Regions from separate parts of the Homo sapiens genome. Here region 1 is linked to region 2. The links come from fine-mapping of genetic effects on gene expression. Tissue or cell type: whole blood. Region 2 holds a variant in brackets; the other region holds the start of a gene. All regions are shown on one strand. Distances are from middle to middle.

Region 1 (5,000 bases), 29 kb before region 2:
AACACCGCTTAATCTGTCCCTTCAAGCTGTCCCTTCAAGGTTAAGATGACAGTCTATCTACGAGCGAGGAAGTCACTGCTTTTCTAAAGAAACACATACTTTAGGAAAAAGTATTTTGAAGACGGATGACTGGAAATGGTTCCAATATTGTGATTTTTTTAATTACCAAAAACAATGGTTTCACCTATCAAAACCTTTGCACACTGAAAAATTAGGAAACAGAATTTGAAAACCTATTTTTTAAAGTTAAATGAAATTTCTTAATGGCTGGAACCCATTTGTTAAGAATATAAAAATGTAACACCTTCCAATCATTCAAGAAGGATTGACTTAAGATATAAATTTACTAGTTGAATTTCAATTAGAAGTCTTTGCATTGTTGATGAATGGGATTGGAAAATAAGTATCATGATTTAATAAATGCAATCAAGGGCATACTTCTTCTGTTTGAATCTACCTATCTTTGGCAAGCATCTTTTCCAGTTATGACAGCAATTAACTTTCACCAAAAAGCATGATTTAAAAAATGTTCATTTTTAAATTTCAACCTTTTAATATTTCTACACTAGGCAATGTTGTATAAGATATGTAATAAAATATATGTAAATACTTGCTTTAAAAATATTACATATATTAAGAACACATTATCATTATTATTATCATTTTGAGATGGAGTTTCACTCGTCACCCAGGCTGGTGTGCAGTGGCGCAATCTTGGCTGATTGCAACCTCTGCCTCCCGGGTTCAAGCGATTCTCCTGCCTCAACCTCCGGAGTAGCTAGGATTACAGGCGCTCCCCACCATACCCAGCTAATTTTTTGTATTTTTAGTAGAGACGGGGTTTCACCATGTTGGCCAGGCTGGTCTCGAACTTCTGACTTGAGGTGATCCACTCGCCTCGGTCTCCCAAAGTGCTGGGATTACAGGCGTGAGCCACCGCACCTGGCCAAGAAAACATTATTTTAAAATGTGTGGCAACCAGTGGTCTGTCACCACAGAGCAGTGTCCACATTTGAGAGCATCATTTTTGCGGGTAGTATGGGAAAGAAAGACACAATTAAGTCAGCAACAATCTAGACTGTGCTTCAAATGCTGGGCAGATCACCTGTTTTGGGGAGTTCTGGCCTAGGGGTTGGTGGAGACAGGGTGAAGGAAGCAGGTTCTTTTATTTGCCAACCTATACCTGATATACATTAAAGGGAAAGTTCCTGGTTCATAGTAGGTCTTCAACTGATGCTTATTCGTTTCTTTTTCCTCTTGCAATTTGCATATCTACCACTTCTAACACTGGTGAGGTCACTCCAGAGCTCACGAATGTGTATAGATAATTTACATATACATATCCACCCCCTCCCAGAACAATCCAGGTAGTGTGAAAGGAGAGAACTTATGCAAACACCCCACTGCCTGCAGAGTATTTTACAATGGCATTTACCTAGGCAAGAAGGCAAAGTCCACTCCCCAATCCTAGTGAGAGTTTTTTTATTTTAATAATTTTTTAAAAAAAATTTTATTATTATTAGTTTTTTGAGACGGAGTCTCGCTCTGTTGCCCAGACTGGAGTGCAGTGGCGCAATCTCGGCTCACTGCAAGCTCCGCCTCCCGGGTTCAAGCGATTCTCGTGCCCTAGCCTACCGAGTAGCTGGGATTACAGGCACGCGCCACCACGTACGGCTAGTTTTGTATTTTTAGTAGAGGGGGGGGGTTTCACCATGTTGGCCCAGGATGGTCTCGAACTCCTGACCTCAGGCCCCGCCTCGGCCTTAATGATTTTTAATCATAACGCTCGGCACCTTCTGACAAATGTCACGTTACTTGTAAAGATTTAGAAACTGTGATTCTATGAGAGGGGGTTATGAAAATAGAATTGCTCTGGAAAGGCTCTTCCATAGAGTTCAAAGACACTTCACACAGCCTGCTATTAAGATGCCCAACCCAACCCGAGAGGAAACAGCGAAGGGTCTTCCCCCTAAGTCGGTGGTATTAGAAGTGGGAAGGACCACAGAAACGGGAGGAAACAGTTAAAAGAACTGACACCACGAAGGAGGCCGCAACAAATGTTTGAAAAATAAGATCAGAAGAGAGGTGGAGAGAGGGTGAGCCGCAGCTGCGGGCGCCGGGGTAATGCCGGTGGACGCAAAGAGGTAAACCTGCACCCGTGGGCAGGGGCACGGGGCGCGGGCACGGTGGCTGGGCGGGCAGGGGGTAGGAAACAAAGGTCGGCTCCCGAGCAGAAGTCAATAAAAGGGGGAAAAGCAGCCGAGGAAAAGCGGCGAAAAGGCGGCAGGGGTGGCGGTGGCGGTGGCGGCGGCGGGGACGGCGCGCGGTGCCTGGCGGGGTCAGGGCCGGGGTCGCCCGCGGGCCGGGCCGGGGATCCGGCTGAGATGGGAACCCGCTAGGCCGCGCCGAGGGGCAGGGCCGGCGACTGAGGGGCCGCAGAGGGGACCGGCCGAGGAGCGACGGCAAAGGGTTGTGGGGGGCAGGGCGCGCAGGGAGGCCGGGACAGGGGCGGGCCGGTCGGCGGGAGTCGCGGCCGCGGGAACCGAGGCAGGGAAAGGCGGTCAGCTTCCCGCCCCCGCCCCCGGCCGCCGCGGCGTGAGGGGAAAGGCCGGCGGGCGGCGGGCAGCGCAGCGAGGAGGAGGAGCCTGCGGCCCCGCCCCGCGGGAGCGAGGGAAGGAGAAAGGCTCGCAGGGAAGGAGGGAGGGAAGGGGGGCGGCCGGCCGGGCCTGCGCCCGAGCGAGCGGCGAACCGAGGGGGAAGGGGCCCGGAAGGAGGCGAGCGCGGCCGCGACGCCGGCAGTCGGACGCCCGCTCGTGCCGGCCTGCCGCAGCCGCCGCAGCCTTCCCTGTGCGCCGAGCCTGGCGTCCCGAGCGGCCGCGAAGGCCGGAACACGGCGGTCGGGCGCGGGGCGAGCGGCGCCGGGAGCCCGAGGCCCGGCCGGGCGTCCTGCGCGAGGCACTGCGGGCTCCTGCCTGCGAGATTAGGCGAGGGGCGGAAAGGGAGGCAAGGAGAGGCCGAGAGGAGACAGGCGATCGGATTTTCCAGGAGTCTGGTGTGGAAGAAAAACCCACCTCGAACTCAAATCCACAATAATAATCCGAACGAATAATAAGGGAGCCGTCTTTCTGGCCGGGCGAGAGAGAGGGAGAGAGAAGGGGGAACGGGAGGAAGCGAAATCTCCGTTTCATGGAGGCTGAGGCAAGAGAAAATTTCGGAGCCTGGATGTGGAGGAGCCCAACAGCAGAACTAACTCAGGAAATTGTCTTTCAGAAAAAGGCCGAACGTAGGCTGGGTCTGAGAATCAGGCTGGGGTAGGTGGAGGAACCTGCAAGTTTAAAGGAAAAAGAAAAGGAGAGAATATTTTCAGAGATTATCTCTGGTTTGTTATCATTACTACCATCTTAAAGGTAAAAAGCATTGCATTTCAGGTGTTCTTTGATTTTTATTTTATTTTTTTTTTTGGTGCAATTGGCTCATTTAAGAATTTCAAAACATTTAATGTAAAAGCTTTTTTTTTTTTAAGGAAGTCCATAAATTTTGGTTCCCAGGGTTGCACTGGACTTGGAAGGAGTGCTGTTGTGTACATACTATTGTATGGTTTTATTTATTATTTTACTGTACAAATCAGCCGAAAGAATTTTTCCAAGTGCCATTTCGGATTTATTAATCCTTTTTTTTTTCCTTTCCTCAAAGATATTTGCTGTTGTCATATTAAGCATTGGAGACTAGAAAATTACTTTCCCCCTTTGAGCTAGAGGGTCTCTTGCCAACAGAAGGACAGCTGAGAAAGCTGGATTTAAAGGATGGTTTTATCTGTACTTTGCAGTTAACAGTGATATTTTGAAGGCACATTTTTCTGTGATTCATTTTTTTTTGGCCATAGTGCTAACCTTGAAGAGATTCGTGGCTGGGTTTTTGGTTTCTGAGAAGGTCGTAGTTTTTCCTCTTTTCCTTTTTTTTTCTTTTTTCTTTTCTTTTCTTTTTTTTTAAAGCGGGGGAGGGGAAGAGGGGCTGAGAAAGGAAATCATGTTCACTGGTAGAAGTAGAGTGGAGCATCAGTTACCAGGGTCCTGAGAGCTGGAGGAGAAAGGATTCTATCTTCAAGTTGGGAGGCCCTCCTCTCACCTTGCTCAAAAATTGCAAGCGATTCAATCCTGATCAAGACACCAAAGCTACAGGATTCTGGAACCGTGGAGACACCGAGAAACCATGAGTGTAAGGTTACCCCAGAGTATAGACAGGTAGGTTTGCTAATAATTTGATTTTTCAACATTGACTAAAGGAAAGACTGGGAGGGGTGGTGTTGCATTTTAATAAATGGTTGAAAATAGGGGTCTGGGTGGGCTATGGGAATTGGTGGGCTAGGAGCATTAGTCTCTGGGGACTGTCAGCCTATGTGGTTATGTGCAAAAACATAGCTCTTGATTCAGCGTCTTTTGAATATAAGCAATAAACAGTGAAGCCAGGAGAGGGAAAGGAGGAGGATGTGCTTCCAGTGGCTTTTGACTTTTGCCAGGGTAGAGGCTGAATTTGAGTCCACCCAACTTGCTAGTCTCAGGTGGGGGCAAGCCAGTCTTGTGAGCTCCTAGGGTTGCACTAGGGGGACTGGCTTTAGGTGTTGGAGCTGCTGGGAGAAGGGCCCTGGCAGAGGCGTGGGCCTCCACCAGGCTGGTTGGTATGGAATGGTGGGGCTTGGTGACGGGGTGGATCCCATTTCTAGAAATGAAGAGGATGTTCTTGGCCTGAATGATGGGACAGAAACATCCTTTGCACCCATGCAAGTCTGGATTTTTACCAGTAGCTGACATGGTCCCAAAATGCATAGATCACATTAGAATTTCCTCTCCTCCAAGCTTAGAGTTTGAATTGAGACCTGCCAACCGGCTGATGCTCTAGGTTTAATCTTCCAAGCTGTTCTTAATAAGCTTGACTCTGCAAAATGGGCCTTCCCTCTGCCTGGAGCCAGAAGAAATTGTTTTGGGCTCGTAGGCCTGCTGGGC
Region 2 (5,000 bases):
TTTTATAATTTCACATTCCCACTGGCAGTGTATCCTATTCCCAGTTGTTCTATATCCTGGTCAACACTTGGTAAGTTCAGTCTTTTTAATTTTAACCATGTTAGTACATACATAGTAACATCTTATTGTGGTTCTAATTTGCATTTCCCTGATGACTAATAATAATTTTATGTGTCATTTTGTCATGTATATGCCTTTTTTTGTTGAAGTATTTGTTTGGGTCTTTTATCCATTTTCAGTGTCTTTTAAAACTTGTTTAAATTTGCATACAGTAAAATGCTTTGTCTTTTGAGGAACAAAAGTTCTTAATTTTGATGAAATCCAATATATAAGGTTTTTCTTTTATAGTTTGTACTCTTTGTATTTAATGAATAAATCTTTGCCAATTTCATAGCCACTAAGATTTTCCTCCTCTGTTTTCTTCTAGACATTTTATGGTTTTAGCTCTTACATTTAAATCTGTGATTTATTCTTCGTTACTTTTTGTGTAGTGTGTGAGAGAAGAGTTGAGGTTAATTTATTACTGTTTTTTGCATATGAGGTCCAGTTGTTCTGGCACCATTACTTGAAAATCATATTCTTTCCTCATTGAATTGTGTTGGCATCTTTGCTGAAAATCCATTGATCGTATATGTGTGGTCCAGACTCTACTGTGTTCCACTGATCTATATCAAAAACACACTGATTTGATTATTGTAGCTTTACAATATGTTTTAAAATCAGTTAATCAAGTCTTCCAATGTTGTTCTTCTGTTTCCAGAATTGTTTTAGTATTCTAGGTCTTTTTCATTTCTTTTTTTTTTTTTTCTTTTTGAGACAGAGTCTTGCTCTGTCAGCAGGCTGGAGTGCAGTGGCACGATCTCGGCTCACTGCAACCTCCGCCTCCCAGGTTCACGCCATTCTCCTGCCTCAGCCTCCCAAGTAACTGGGACTACAGGCGCCCGACACCACGCCCAGCTAATTTTTTTTGTATTTTTAGTAGAGACGGGGTTTCACCATGTTAGCCAGGATGGTCTCAATCTCCTGACCGCATGATCCGCCCACCTTGACCTCCCAAAGTGCTGGGATTACAGGCATGAGCCACCGCGCCCGGCTGGTCTTTTTCATTTCTATATAGATTTTGGAATCAATTTGTCAGTTTCTGTAAAAGTGCCTTCTGAGATTATGATTGGGATTGTGCAGAAACCATAGATCAGTTCAGAGAGAATTGGCATTTTAACAACATTCAGTTTGTCAGTCTATAAATACCATGTATTTCTTCTTTTATTTAGGTCATTAAGTTCTCTCAGCAATGTTTTGTAGTTTTTAGTGTCAAGTCTTATACATTTCTTATCAAATTTATCCCTATTTCATATTTTTGAGGCTATTTTAACTGGTAGTATTTAATTATCAATTTTCATTTATTTTTGTTGGTATGTATAAACATACTTGATTTTTATATATAGATTTCATATCCTGAAACCTTGCTAAATTTACCTATTCTCTCATAGCTTTTTTGTTAATTCTCTAGGATTTTAGAATCAGCTTGCTTGATTCTAAGTCATGTTGTCTGGAAATATGACAGTTTTACCTCTTCATTCCAATCTGTATGTTTTATGAGTTTTGGAGAATATCAGGATTTTAGAACTTCTTGGTAGACCTTTGGAGCAGATGTTAGATTCTCTCTTACCAGAAATTCTTTAAAAATCAAAACAAAAGAAATTATTAAATCCTCTTCTCCGTTTCTTTTTTTTTTTTTTTTTTTTTTTTTGAGACGGAGTCTCACTCTGTTGCCCAGGCTGGAGCACAGTGGCGCGGTCTTGGCTCACTGCAACCTCCACCTCCTGGGTTCAAGTGATTCTCCTGCCTGAGCCTCCCAAGTAGCTGGGATTACAGGTGCGTGCCACCACGTCCGGCTAATTTTTTGTATTTTTAGTAGAGACAAGGTTTCACCATGTTAGCCAGGATGATCTCGATCTCCTGACCTCGTGATCCACCTGCCTCGACCTCCCAAAGGGCTGGGTTTGCAGGCATGAGCCACTGCGCCCGGCCTTCTCCATTTCTTTATTAATTCAGTGAACATTTAGTACCCACTGTATCAGACACTAGTGATTCATGGAAGAGACGGACATACAAACAAATAATTATAATTTAACAAGTAAGTGTAATAAGTGCCATGGTAGTTATGATACAGAGTGTGCTGGGAATTTAGAGGCAGGACCATTCAGAATCTGGGCAGTGAGATGATCTCTGCAGACCCTGCTGTTCTGGAAGGGTATGACTGCCTGAGGAATACTTGGAGGTCATTGATAAGAAAGTATTTAAACTGAGCTATCTGGGGAAGTTCCACCTCTTCGCCATCCTGATTGTCCATATTTGCTTTATTATTATGGGGAGCCTGAAAGGAATACATCTTTATCAATAGTTCTTCTCCTTCCTATTTTCTTTTTTAAATCTTAATGGTATGGCAGCAGCCTTAGCTTCTAGCCTTAAATCTCACTAGTCTGGATGTCGTGGGGTGTGCCTGTAGTCCCAGCTACTTGGGGGCTGAGGTGGGAGGATCGCTTGAGCCCAGGAGGTGGAGACTGCAGTGAGCTGAGATTGTGCTACTGCACTCCAGCCTGGATGACAAAGCAAGATTCTCTCTCAAAATAAATAAATAAATAAATAAATAAATAATAAAAACTCTATTATGGAAAATTTCAAACAAGAGTAGGATGAGATAAGGAACAACAGTTATCAACTCATGCCAATTTCATTTTGTCTACACTCCTACATACCCTTCATCAGATTATGAAGCAAATCACAGACATTTTATCTGTAAATTTTTCAGTATGTATCTCTAAAAGATGAAAACGCTTAAAAATACAGTCACAATACTGTTA[C/A]CACACACACAAAATGAACAGACGCCAAACAACCTAACAACAGAGAAAAATAATTTTAAAAACAGGAATATTAGGCTGGGCACCGTGGCTCACGCCTGTAATCCCAGCACTTCAGGAGGCCGAGGCAGGTGGATCACTTGAGGCCAAGAGTTTGAGACCAGCCTAGCCAACATGGTGAAACCCTGTCTCTACTAAAAATACAAAAATTAGCTGGGTGTGGTGGCAGGTGTCTATAATCCCAGCTACTCGGGAGGCTGAGGCAGGAGAATCGCTTAAATCTGAGAGGCGGAGGTTGCAGTGAGCCAAGATCGTGCCACTGCAGACAGAGCAATAGTCTGTCTCAAAAAAAATAAAAAGATAAAATAAATAAAAACAGTAATATTAGAAGTAGCTCCCTTTTGTTGCTCGCTGACCATGTGCCAGGCCTGTAATGGGTGCTATGGGTGCCTCATTCAGTCCTCACAATAGACACCTGGGGGTTTAGGTCTTATTTGTGATTGGCTGGGTAGTCTGACTCCTGGCAAGCGTTTTTCCTACTGTTCTTTTGTTGTTTCATTACGGATTAAAATCTTAGAGATATCCACACACTCCTGGTTTATTTTTAAGACTGCAGTAGTCATCACATCACTCTTCCAATCCCCATATTGTGAAAAGGTATCTCTCCCCCTCCTCAGTTGAGAATTCCCAGAGGGCAGGGACCATAATAGCAAAGTGACTGGCACCTGGTGGAAATTCAGTAAATGTTTTTGATTGGGTGAATGAGTGTATCTGGCTCCCCCTGGGAGACATGCTCGTTGGGCCAGGTCGCCAAGAGTCCCATGGCTGACCTTCCATCCCAGTGCTTCCTCCTCCAGTGGAAAGAGGCACTAATCCACACATGCCTGTGCTGCATGCAGTAAGGCCCTTCAGGATATTGTGACCATTAGCAGACACACACTGCGCATTACTGAGGACCTAGAGTGTAATTATGGCAGTAGACCTTCAGGCTGCAAAGATGGATAAGACAATCCCTGCCTCAAGTAGCTCAAAGACCATTAAATAGATGACCACAGTGCAAGATGAATGCAGTGATGGCGATGTGCCCTGTGAGTTAGGAGCAGGGTAAAGATAACCCAGCCAGGGGAGGAGAGTGGGGTTGCTTGTTTGTTTGATAAATACTCATATAGTACTTATGTACCAGGCACTGTTCTAAGAACTTTGCACATAATAATTCCTTTAATCCTCATAACAGCCTGTGAGCGTCCCCATTTCATAGCTGCGTATAATGAGACAGAGCATTAAGCACCTTACCCAAATCACACAGCTGGTAAGTAGTAGAACTAGGATTCAGATCTAGGCAGTGTGGCCCTAGGTTCTGTCCTCTTAACCACTATATCAAGCAGTCTCTGAAATTCCTGAAGTAGAGGGGAAAATGAGAAGCATAGACAATTTGTATCAAATTGTCCAGGATGTATTGTTTAACTGGCTATGTGGTCAGAGAAAAGGAAGAGTCAAGATTGATTGCCAGAATTCCTACCTGGGGCTTGAGAGAATACGAGAGGAGGACAGAGGTGTGGTGCATGGAGATGAGTTTGTCAGTGTGTTGAGTTTGAGCATCTGTTGGCTGTGTTGTCCCCTAGAGAGTTCCATATGGAGCCTGAAATCTAAAAGAGACTGAAGGCTGAAGACAAGAATGAGAGTCCGCATTGTTACAAAAGTTGGTTAAAAGGAGAGTACGCACTGTCTCCTAAGAAGGAAGGGTAGGATAAAGTAGCAAGTCTGAAAGCAAGAGGAATCAACATTGTTGCATGCAGAGAGAGGTCCAGTGAGATGAGATCTGGAAAAGAAAATGCTCTGAACTTCTCAGTTGAGGGGCTGTTGGTAATCTTACTGAAAACAATCTCATCAGAGTTCTAGAGGCAGAAGCCAGATTGCAGTGGATTGAGGGGTAAGTGGGAGGTGAGAAACTGGAGACAGTCGATGTAGACGACTCTTCCCAGGAGTCTGGATGAGAAGTGGAGAAAAGAGATTGGTTGATTGGTAATAGCTAGAGGGGATTGTTGGGTCAAGGAAATATTTTTTCCTTTAAGAGAGAATTGGATCACTTTAGCCCAGGAGTTTGAGGCTGCGGTAAGCTACAGTGGCACCACTACACTC

Evidence for each region. PIP is the estimated chance that this variant, and not a neighbour inherited with it, causes the effect.
Region 1: it holds the start of ARHGEF11, and the variant in region 2 is fine-mapped to the expression of ARHGEF11 in whole blood (INTERVAL, PIP above 0.99).

What each region holds. Positions count from the first base shown.
Region 1 is chr1:157,043,540-157,048,539 of GRCh38, reverse strand. ARHGEF11 (Rho guanine nucleotide exchange factor 11) reads left to right here and starts at 2,798. Exons shown (of 41, transcript NM_198236.3): 1 at 2,798-4,241. The coding sequence starts at 4,210. RefSeq lists a silencer at 2,588-2,887.
Region 2 is chr1:157,014,457-157,019,456 of GRCh38, reverse strand. All of the region lies in intron 1 of ARHGEF11 (Rho guanine nucleotide exchange factor 11), which reads left to right. Among named protein-coding and RNA genes, the nearest start is that of ARHGEF11, 29 kb to the left of the region's middle. The variant C/A (reference allele first, on the strand shown) is at 2,865.